3 linked regions of the Homo sapiens genome follow. The protein of the gene in region 1 interacts with the protein of each later gene in a pairwise test. Each region holds a gene or a part of one and is shown on either strand. Other genes may lie near its edges. The genes, in order: CCDC198, PDE4DIP and FKBP6.

What was found.
Region 2: the proteins of CCDC198 (region 1) and PDE4DIP interact in binary tests that used the Homo sapiens proteins (3 or more experiments, as listed by UniProt).
Region 3: the proteins of CCDC198 (region 1) and FKBP6 interact in a two-hybrid assay, tested with the Homo sapiens proteins (one large-scale study listed by BioGRID).

The regions. Positions count from the first base shown.
Region 1 is NC_000014.9:57,480,238-57,483,890, forward strand, and holds part of CCDC198 (factor associated with metabolism and energy), read right to left. Parts: intron 2,948-3,653; exon of another isoform or gene 2,915-2,947; coding exon 2,828-2,914; intron 1,424-2,827; coding exon 1,322-1,423; intron 518-1,321; coding exon 358-517; intron 1-357. UniProt on the Homo sapiens protein: May be involved in tuning the metabolism, energy expenditure, and excretion processes.
Region 2 is NC_000001.11:149,001,412-149,005,064, forward strand, and holds part of PDE4DIP (myomegalin), read left to right. Parts: intron 1-179; coding exon 180-615; intron 616-1,438; coding exon 1,439-1,631; intron 1,632-2,199; coding exon 2,200-2,319; intron 2,320-3,497; coding exon 3,498-3,653. UniProt on the Homo sapiens protein: Functions as an anchor sequestering components of the cAMP-dependent pathway to Golgi and/or centrosomes.
Region 3 is NC_000007.14:73,338,159-73,341,811, reverse strand, and holds part of FKBP6 (inactive peptidyl-prolyl cis-trans isomerase FKBP6), read right to left. Parts: intron 1,175-3,653; coding exon 980-1,174; intron 557-979; coding exon of another isoform or gene 540-556; coding exon 430-539; intron 1-429. UniProt on the Homo sapiens protein: Has an essential role in spermatogenesis. It is required to repress transposable elements and prevent their mobilization, which is essential for the germline integrity.

The sequences.
Region 1 (3,653 bases):
TGCCATGTGACTGCCGGCAATATATCTTCATATGCTTCATTCTCTCTAACCACAAGATGAGGCTATTTTGCCTTTTCTGCTTCTAGGGATGAGGCAAGACTTGCAATGAAGCATGCAAAGCATATTAAACCCATACAAAGAAAGAGACATTTAATTACCAAGCTTAAGCTTCTGTCTTTTCCTCCCAGCCATCCAAAATTACATGACAACATGCCCACTATATTCTGGGAAGTAAAAATCTCAGCAAGAGCTCAAAGCTGTTTGCTGTCTTCTCATCATGTCCCTCCCTTGGTAGTTTATTTGATGAAGTTTTAAAAACACTTGAAATGTTTTACTAAAAAATTGTACATGACTCACCGGGACCTCTGTTCAAGATTTCATCAGGCAACATGGTTAGAAGGTCATGGTCATCATTCCTTGGGGTGCTTTGAAGGGTTTTCTTGGCTTTATGGTCCCTTGGACTTTGCTTATTAATTCTTGCCTCTCCATGAAGACTTTTCTTTAACTCCATTTGGGCCTGAAAATCATCAACTATAAATGATCAATGTTCTTCCCAAGCTACTTTCACCAGACTAGATCAACAGATCAGCCACTTTGCAAGTTGTGTGCTTATCTGTAGACATCTGCAGTCCTCTAACCAGAACATGGTTTTCTTTTTCCTATTAGAAGGTATGGGAACTTTATTTATTGACAGGCTTGTTAAGAGAAAGGTGAGTGCACCCAGTCTCAAAAAGGTATGGCTCAATTAAGATGAGGACCTTTACAAAAGTGTGTTTCTGTCAGCTAGCTGATATGATTGGAGTTCCAGAGAGCAGTAACTAAAGGCTCATTTCCTAGAGGGAGGAATTTGGAACATGACAGTTACAGGCATTACTGGTAAAGGGTTTTTTTGTTTGTTTGGTTGGTTGGTTGTTTTTTTTACAAGAGGTCTTTCTTGTTAGATAATTCTATGGCAAGAATTATAGAGAGAGGCCTAGGTATCAGAATAAAGAACAACTCACCCCCTCCTCCTTTCACTAAACCAAGAAAAATGATCTAGCCCCATTTTCCTATGTCCAGAATGTCATAGGAGCAAACTGTTTTTAAAAATGGAGACTTGCGACACAGATACACAGATACAAACTTAGAAAAGACTCAACAAGGTTATCAGCAGAAGGAATCTTCCTGATTCTTCTCAGCTTTAGTAGTTGAACCTTCAACCTCAATGACGAAATTTAAAATGCTAAGTAAAGACTGGCTATCTATGCTTGATATATTCATGTGGCAGGGCAGTGATTATGTGATGAAAATTTGGTAAATATGACACTCTTCTCGTATTTACCTCTTGTCTTTTACGGATCATTTCCAGCACTTGCATCTTATGCAAATATTGTCTGTTCTCAGAAGTATACATTGGAGTTTGCATTTTCTTTTCTAGTACCTGCTATGAAAGACAACACACTTGTTAGTATGGGGTAATTTGTTACTGACTCTGCAATTCACAAGTTTAGATCCTTTTTGAAACAGAGTCAGATCTTAATCAGTCATAACCTGTAGAGATATCTTGTGATGACAAAAGTGGACTATCGTGTGTCCCTGACAAGTCCTTTGTGTCACTATCAATGAATGAAGTGGCTCTTTGATGTGTATATATGTAGTTTTTTAGGTTGCTATAGAGTTTTGTAAACCTTAAATGGGAATATCTTTCCACATCTCATTTTTGGCAAGATATCACTTCCTTTGTAAACAGATGCTTATTACCACCTCTCCAGAATTGTGTTCTGGTTTGAGGAAACCTTTCTTTTTCTCCCTGCCTCTTTTACCATTGAGTAATTGGCTGGCTATGAAATGAGAGGGAAGCTGCTGAATGGTGAAATGGAACCTATTTCTATAGAGTGCATTTCCATATGCCAGCATAAGCCTTGGAGAATATTGCAGTTTAGGGAGGATTTGAAGTTGATTATTTGTGACTCTGAACATCTCCCCGCCAGTGCATCATAAACTCCAGTGGGACAGTGCAGACGGTTATTGAGGGCAGCCAGAGGTCAATATACCTTCATTTGTCATTTGCTGTTGCCAGGAAAGATGATGTGTTTGACAATACCTTTTGTGTTGCTGTGTGGATAGTGACTGTCAGCTGATGTGAACCTCAGGGAGGGGCCATCTCCACAGATGCTGTCAGCACCACAAACGTGGGCTTGAGGATGTGACAGCACCTGGACATCTTTGTCAAGTCAGCCAGCCACACAGCAGCACCTAGCAAGCTCCAAAACAAATTAGGAGTGGAAAGTGTTGAAAATCTGCTTCTACCTCTAAGCTTTCATTTCTATGTGAGGGGAGTTCTAGTCAACAGAACATTATAAGTGCATAGCAGGGAAAAGATACACAGAAGACATTTCCCAGGATTAATTTTTGGTGAGGTTGTGTCAAATAAGTCAGGAATAACTTGTAGATAAGATTTCTCCTGCAAACTGAGAATAAAAAGTTTTAAACTGAGGGGAGGAATGAAAGGGAGGACTTATGCTGAATTTTTCACAGATTTGAAAACTTCAGAATCACCAATTTCTAAGTAAAAGTCTTTTCTCATCTACATTGCCCTGGTTTTCAACACAAAGCAGAAAAGGGTGCAGAGCTCATGCAAGAGGTAATAGCCACTGCCAGTTGGAGGCATGCACAGAAGAGAATAAATAGCTTTGAAAAGTTCTCACTCTGAATGACTTAACAGTTTGATTTGTCTTTGAACTCCTCCATGCAGAGAGTGCATGAAAGGACCAGTGTGCTCCAGTGCCCCAATCCTGTGTCGCCCACCCCCAGTTCACCTCCCTGTCAGGTTACTGCTGCAGCTCACCTTTGCTTTGTGCATTGTCCTGGCTTCTCGCTGGCTCAGGAGTCTTCCTGAAGTAATTACTCGTGGCAAGTCAATGGGTTCAAGCTTCTAGAAGTTCAACGTTTAGAGCAGTCAGCATTCCTCATGCCATGAGATGATGAAACAGAAAAGCCAGACATTAAATTATCTTAACACTTTGCAAAAGCGGCACTTATTTCTGAGAGCATACAGGAAAGGTGATTCTAACAGCATTACAGTTATATTGGTACAAAGGGCTTTTCAACCTATCTGGGTTCTTTATTATTCTAGTGCACTGTCGACAGTGCCTTATTGATCTAAGTGTTGGTCAGAGAGTTAGGAGACTAAGATACTCTTCTGTCTGCATTAAGGGACCATGTCCAAAGTTATCAAACCACCAGGATCTTAGAATATTAGAGATAAAAGAGGCGCTAGGAATTTATTTTATTTCACACATCCCTTAGGTACCCAGCTGAACTATTCCAGCCCTTAGGGAAGCAATCTGTTTTTAAGATCTCTAGAGAAGCTCCTTAGTAGTAATCACTGGTGATTATGAGACACATTTAAAATGAAACTGCAGTGTGCTAACACATTTTAGAGATGTCCTTTTCTAGCAGGGGCTTGGCTTGATAGGGGAGATCATGTTGGCATTTCAGGGGGTCACTAAGACTGGGCAGCAATTCATGTCAACCGGTCTGCCTCCAGCCGGATCTTGATCACTGAGAAGTGATCAAGCAGGTTTGGGAGACAAAGTCTGGTCTCTTGACATTGACATGCAATGGGGAACGTGGAGGGCCACAGAGTTTATGTGTTCCTTCAGTGACTACTT
Region 2 (3,653 bases), on another chromosome or scaffold:
TACTTTTCCTGAGCCTTGGCTTTCTTGTATATAAAATTAGGGGGCTGTGGTAGGTCTCAGGTTGCTTCATGCTCTGGGGTAAGTCTGAGTTAATTGCGGGCTGAGATGTTGGTAAGAGGTAGTATTAGGAACTGTTGTGAGGACCAGACCTAGCCCTCAATTAAGTGTGTTTCCTGCAGGAACACCATGCTGAGCCTTTGCCTTGAGAATGCGGAGCTGAAAGAGCAGATGGGAGAAGCAATGTCTGATGGATGGGAGATCGAGGAAGACAAGGAGAAGGGCGAGGTGATGGTTGAGACTGTGGTAACCAAAGAGGGTCTGAGTGAGAGTAGCCTTCAGGCTGAGTTCAGAAAGCTCCAGGGAAAACTGAAGAATGCCCACAATATCATCAACCTCCTCAAAGAACAACTTGTGCTGAGTAGCAAGGAAGGGAATAGTAAACTTACTCCAGAGCTCCTTGTGCATCTGACCAGCACCATTGAAAGAATAAACACAGAACTGGTTGGTTCCCCTGGGAAGCACCAACACCAAGAGGAGGGGAATGTGACTGTGAGGCCTTTCCCCAGACCCCAGAGCCTTGACCTTGGGGCTACCTTCACAGTGGATGCCCACCAAGTAAGTGTGGGCTTAGATTGAGTGAAAAACAATTGGAGAAGGGCTTGAGATGACAGTGTTTACCTTAAAACATTCTCCCATATGAATCAGGAGGTACCAAGAGAAGGGTCTCTTTGTACCACAAACAATAATAGTAATATTCTGCCTACATTCAGCCTTTAGAAAGGCTTTTATAACATAAATATTTCTTGAGTACTTAATTTTTCAGATAACACACTAGGCATTGGCATGGGGCAATAAAACCAATGGCTGCCCCTGAGATACTTAATATTGTCGGGAAAGATGGCACACAAACAGGTAATTTTAACAGGATGTGGTAACTGCTGTAACATAGGGATGCATCAGGTTATGAGGCAGCCCAGACAAGTGGTATGTAATGACATCCCTTATCACTGCCATTTTTTTGTCACAGCTCATCACAGGTGTCTGTTCCTGGGCTTCAGATGGGTTACTGGGATCCTCTTTAGGGAAGGAGCCATGCTGAAGATTCAGTGAAATGGAGAATACAGGGATTCTGAGAGAATCAATGGGACAGAATGTGAGGGGAGATGAGTGGTCTCTTTTTGACCACTGAGAAAACATTTCCTGAGAGCTCCTCTGTAGACTTGATTGGTGCTGTGCTGTGTGCTGTGGATACAGATATGAAGAAAACATTATCCCAGCGCTCCAGGAGCTCCATCTGGAAAGCAAGTCACTGCCAAATGGCATGAGAAGTGCTGTGACAGACTTGAGTAAAGTCCACAGGGTTCAGAAGGGGCGGTGGTCGTCACTGCATGGGGGTGACCTCAGACTGTCCTGATCCCTGTATTGGCCCCTTTCACAGTTGGATAACCAGTCCCAGCCTCGTGACCCTGGGCCTCAGTCAGCGTTTAGCCTACCAGGGTCCACCCAGCACCTGCGCTCCCAGCTGTCACAATGCAAACAACGCTATCAAGATCTCCAGGAGAAGCTGCTGCTATCAGAAGCCACTGTCTTTGCTCAGGCTAACGAGCTGGAGAAATACAGAGTTATGCTTAGTAAGTAACTATGACTTACTAGTAAAGAAAACTAGCCTATATGTCTTATAAGTTCTGTATGTTCTATACCGACATAACGTGGTTATTGAGCACACGAAGTGTGGCTAGTGCAACTTGGACATTTGGTTTTATTTAATTTTAGTTGATGTAGTATAAAGTGGCCATATGTGGCTGCTAACTACCTTATTGGACAGTACAGGTCTAGGGTCTTGGGACTCTAAATTAGTTCAGCTCCATTCAACATTTATTGAACCCCTGCGGATAAAGCACTTGCCAGCTTCAATGGGGCTGCTAGAGATGATAGTGTACAATCCCTGACTTACAGATATCTGGTCCCAACTAAAGCCTGGGTTATCTGAAGGGGAGATAATGGCAAATGCAGGCTCCTCCTTTGGAAAGAAATTCTGCTTCCTGGAGCTGGTGATCTCTTCTCCCACCAGTTCAGAGAAGCTTCTCTCCCACTGTGGATCTGCCTTCCGTGCCTCAAAAGGTTAGGGTATGTGCCATTGAGGCTGAGGGCATATGTGGGAAATTCAGACATTCTGTAACACCTGCTTCTCTTCCCAAGCAGGTGAATCCTTGGTGAAGCAGGACAGCAAGCAGATCCAGGTGGACCTCCAGGACCTGGGCTATGAGACTTGTGGCCGAAGCGAGAATGAGGCTGAACGGGAGGAAACCACCAGTCCTGGTAAGAGCACAGGGTGTGGGGCTCACCCCTCCCTGGAGTCAGCTGTCACATTTGGATGCTGTTGGCCAATTCCACACCTGACAAGTATTGGGGAAGAGGAGGACAGGAGGTTAATAGGAGAAATCTTACCCAAAATGAGGCTGAGTATAAGTTTGAATTTCTACAATTAGTTTTTGGCATACTGCTAATAACAATAATAATATAAAATTCTATCCAACTGATTATTATAGAAATACTAAGGCCTACTTAGAGACCAGATAAGGTTTTAGAAACATGCAAGCCATAAATTAAAAATAATTTTGTTTTGCATTATAAAAAGACTACAACTATAGGGCCACCCACCACATTGAAAACCAGAAGAGAAGAAAAACACAATCTCTCTCATTCTTGAGGCAGTGTAGTGTGGCAGTTAAGAGACAAGATCCTGGGGCCAGACTGGTTGGTTCAAATCCCAGTTTGAAAACTTTCCTATGTCCCAGTTTCTTCATGTGTTAAAATAGTAATAAAGGAACTACCTACCCCATCAGGTACTAAGGTCAATTAAATGAGTAAATTCTTATAAAATGCTTTAGAACAGTGCCTGGCATCTGGTAAAATGCCATGGATTAGTTCTCATTCTGACTACCACTGCCCTAATACACTGATGTTAACATGCTGATATATTTATTTGAAGCCTTATTTTCCTATGCCTATTTTTCATACAGTTGTAACCCAATAAACTTTTAAATTATAGTAAAATTTAAAGAGCATTAAACTTTCAGCATGCAGTAATAGCTTGTCCTACATTCTTGTGGCCATCCTAAATAGATAAGGCCATGTTAATGTCTTAAGAAACACCAGTGTGTGTGGAATGAACACAGGACATTGGAGGATTTGAATTCTGGCTCTGCCATGTGCTAGTTTGAGTGATCTAGAACAAGCTAGTTTACCACCTCTCTTTAAGTTTTGGTTTCCCAGTCAGTAAAATAGAAAGTGATGAAACCTAACTTGTAGGTATAAGGAAGATAAGAAATATTGTATTTGAATGCCTAGTACAGTGTCAGGGTTGAATAAAGTACTACTTCAACTTTTTCCCTAGTAATTATTGTCCTCATGACCAAACCTGCCTCCTCTCAAAGGCAGTGGCCACAACAGCACATCCAACTTTTATTTAGGAAGACATCTTTGTCTTTTTTCAGAGTGTGAGGAGCACAACAGCCTCAAGGAAATGGTCCTGATGGAGGGGCTGTGCTCTGAGCAGGGACGCCGGGGCTCAACACTGGCTAGTTCCTCTGAGAGGAAGCCCTTGGAGAACCAGCTAGGGAAGCAGGAAGAGTTCCGGGTATATGGAAAGT
Region 3 (3,653 bases), on another chromosome or scaffold:
CACGCCTGTAATCCCAGCTACCTTGGAGGCTGAGACAGGAGAATCGTCTGAACTCGGGACGCGGAGGTTGCAGTGAGCCGAGATCATGCCATTGCCCTATAGCCTAGGTGACAGAGAGGGACTCCATCTCAAAAAAAAAAAAAAAAAGTGACACCCTCCCACCTCTCTAGGGGTTGTTTATTTGCGGTAGGGGAAACAGAAAGGTGGGCGATGATGGAGATGTATAGTCTGGCAGTCTGTCTCACCTGCTTGCTGGGAACTGCTGGTGCAGCGCACGGCCGAGCACTTCAGAAACCCAGCTGTAGAGGGGGCGGCCTCCTAACACTCTGGGCAACACCGCCAGACTGTCCTTTGTTGGGGGGGGTGGGGGGACAGACCAGAGTCACAACCCCACCCATCTCTCTTCATGCTCCTGCAAACACAGCTCACCTAGCCAGTTTCTTCAGCTCATTATTGATGTCATGATTGAAGGGTTGCTCCTTCTGGGCTCGAACTAGAAAATCCCGGGCCTTTTGATACTCAGTCAGGAGAAGACAAGCCTGTCCCAAGGAGAGAACTTTAAAAGCACAGTTAGAAAAGATATCATTTGGCTGGGCACGGTGGCTCATGCCTGTAATCCCAGCACTTTGGGAGGCCAAGGCGGGCGGATCAACTGAGGTCAGGGATTCCAGACCAGCCTGGCCAACACGGCAAAACCCTATCTCTACTAAAACTACAAAAATTAGCTGGGTGTGATGGCGCATGCCTGTAATCCCAGCTACTTGAGAGGCTGAGGCAGGAAAATTGCTTGAAGCCAGGAAGCGGAGGTTGCAGCGAGCCGAATTTGCGCCACTGCACTCCATCCTGGGCAACAAGAGCAAAACTCTGTCTAAAAAAAAAAAAAAAAAAAAAAAAGACAGCATTTTTGCAGTAGCTGAGTTGAGCACTGCTACTACCTTTTCCTGGGTGTTTATTCCCAAGTCACTGGCTTCCAACTCACCTGTCCACACCTGAAGAGGGCCTTGGCATTCTTTTGGTCAATGATCAAAGCCTGCTCTCCATAGCACAGGGCTATGGTGGGTCGGTCTAGCTTCAGGTATGTAAAGGACAGGTTCAGGAGAACAGGAAGCTTGGCGGCCTCCACCAGGTGCTGCTCTTCAGGGGGTGCTGATCGCCGGCGCAGAAGCAATAGGGCCTGTGGAGAGGGAAGGCAGATGGTCAAGAGGAGTAACAGTCTTATGTACAAAACCCTAAAGAATCCACACGCAAAAACTATCAGAGCTAAAAATCGGCTGTTACAGGTTGCAAGACACAAGATCAACATAAGAAGTCAGGTATATTTCTTTTTTCTTCTTTTTTCAGACGGAGTCTTGTTCTGTCGCCAGGCTGGAGTGATCTCAGCTCACTGCAACCTCCGCCTTCTGAGTAGCTGGGACTACAGGTGTGCACCACCATGCCCGGCTAATTTTTTCATATTTTAATATGACCATTTTGGCCAGGATGGTCTCGATCTCCTGACCTCGTGATCCACCTGCCTCAGCCTCCCAAAGTGTTGGGATTACAGGCGTGAGCCACCATGCCCGGCCAAAAGTCAGGTATATTTCTATGCTCTAGCAACGAACTACCCAAAAATGAAATTAAGAAAACAACTCCATTTACAATAGCATCAAAAAGAATACAGTAAGTAGCAATAAACTTAAAACAACTGAAAGACTTGCACACTGAAAACTACAAAATGGTTGTTGAAAGAAATTAAAGATGATTCAAATAAAATGGAAAAATATCTCATGTTCATTAATTGGAAGACAATATTAAGATGGTAATATTTTCCTAACTGGTCAACATATTCATGCAACCCTACCAAAATTTCAACAGCCTTTTTTGTAGACACAGACAAGTTGATTAGATAATTCATATGGTGGCCAGGCACAGTGGCTCATGCCTGTAATCCCAGCACTTTGGGAGGCTGAGGCGGGCAGATCACCTGAGGTCGGGAGTTCGAGACCCGTCTGGCCAACATGGTGAAACCCCATCTCTACTAAAAATACGAAATCAGCTGGGTGTGGTGGCAGGTGCCTGTAATTCCAGCTACATTGGAGGCTGAGGCAGGAGAATCACTTGAACATGGGAGGCGGAGGTTGTGGTGAACCGAGACCACACCACTGCACTCCAGCCTAGGTGACAGTGCAAGACTCCACCTCAAAAAAAAAAAAAAAAAAAGAGTCACATGGAAATTCAAAGGACCCTGAATAGCCAAAATACTCTTGAGAAAGGACAAAGCTGGAGAACTCATATTTCCCATTTCAAAACTTACTAAAAGACAAAAAATAAACAAAAAACACGAAACTTCCTAAAGCTACAGTAATTACGCCAGTGTAGCACCGGCATAAGGACAGACATGTAGATCAATGAAATTGAACACAGAGTCCAGAAATAGATTTATATATCTACAGTCAACTGATTTTCAATAAGGGTGTCCAGACCATTCAATGGGAGAGAACTGTCTTTTCAACAAATAATGCTGGGACGAGAGACTATCAACATGCAAAAGAATGTTTACCTTGCACTAGATGCAAAAATTAACTAAAGTGGAGCATAGCCCTAAAAGTAGGAGTTAAAACTCTAAGACTCTGCGCTGGCTTCGGCAGCACATATACTAAAAATTGGAAAGACAGGGAGAAGATCGCATGGCCCCTGTGCAAAGATGACATGCAAATTCATAAAGCATTTCATATATTTTTTTAAAAAACTATCAGACTTTAGAAGTACAAATAGGTGTAAATTTTTGTGACCCTGGATTAGAAAATGGTTTCTTAGATATAACACCAAAAGCACAAATAAGCAAAGAATTAGACTTCATCAAAATGTAAAACTTTTGTGTTTCAATGGACACTGCAAAGAAAGTGCAGACAGCCCACAGAACAGCATAGAGCATTTGCGCATCCTGTGTTTGTTGAGGGTGTAGTATCCAGAGCACAGCAGCAACATTTACTCCTCAGTACAAAGACAGATGACCCAACTTTCAGATATGCATAGACTCCGAATAGACATTTTTCCAAAGAAGATAGACAAATAGTCATTAAATGCATGAAAATATGTCCAATGTCATCAGTCATCAGGGAAATGCAAATCAAAACCACAGTGAGATACCACTTCACATCCGCTAAGATGCCTAACTTTAAAAATATAAAATAAGTGTTGGTGAAGATGTGGAGAAATTGGAAGCTTCGCACATTACTCGTGGGAATGTAAGATGGTACAGCTGCTGTAGGAAGCAGTTTGGCAGTTCCTCAAAAATTTTGACAGTTCCCACACAATCCAGCAATTGCACTCCTAGGCACATACCCAAGAAAACTGAAAACGTGTTCACACGACAACTTGTACATAAACGCTCACTGCATCAGTCATAATAATCACGAAGTGGAAACAACCCACATGTCCAACTGATGAATGGACAAAAAGCAGCAGAGCCATCCAACGGAAAAGTAGCCTTACAAAAGAACGAGGGTCCGGGTGCGGTGGCTCATGCCTGTAATCCCAGCACTTTGGGAGGCTGAGGTGGGCGGATCATCTGAGGTCAGAAGTTCAAGACCAGCCTGGCCAACATGGTGACACCCTGTCTCTACTAAAAATACAAAAATTAGCCAGGTGTGGTGGCAGGTGCCTGTAATCCC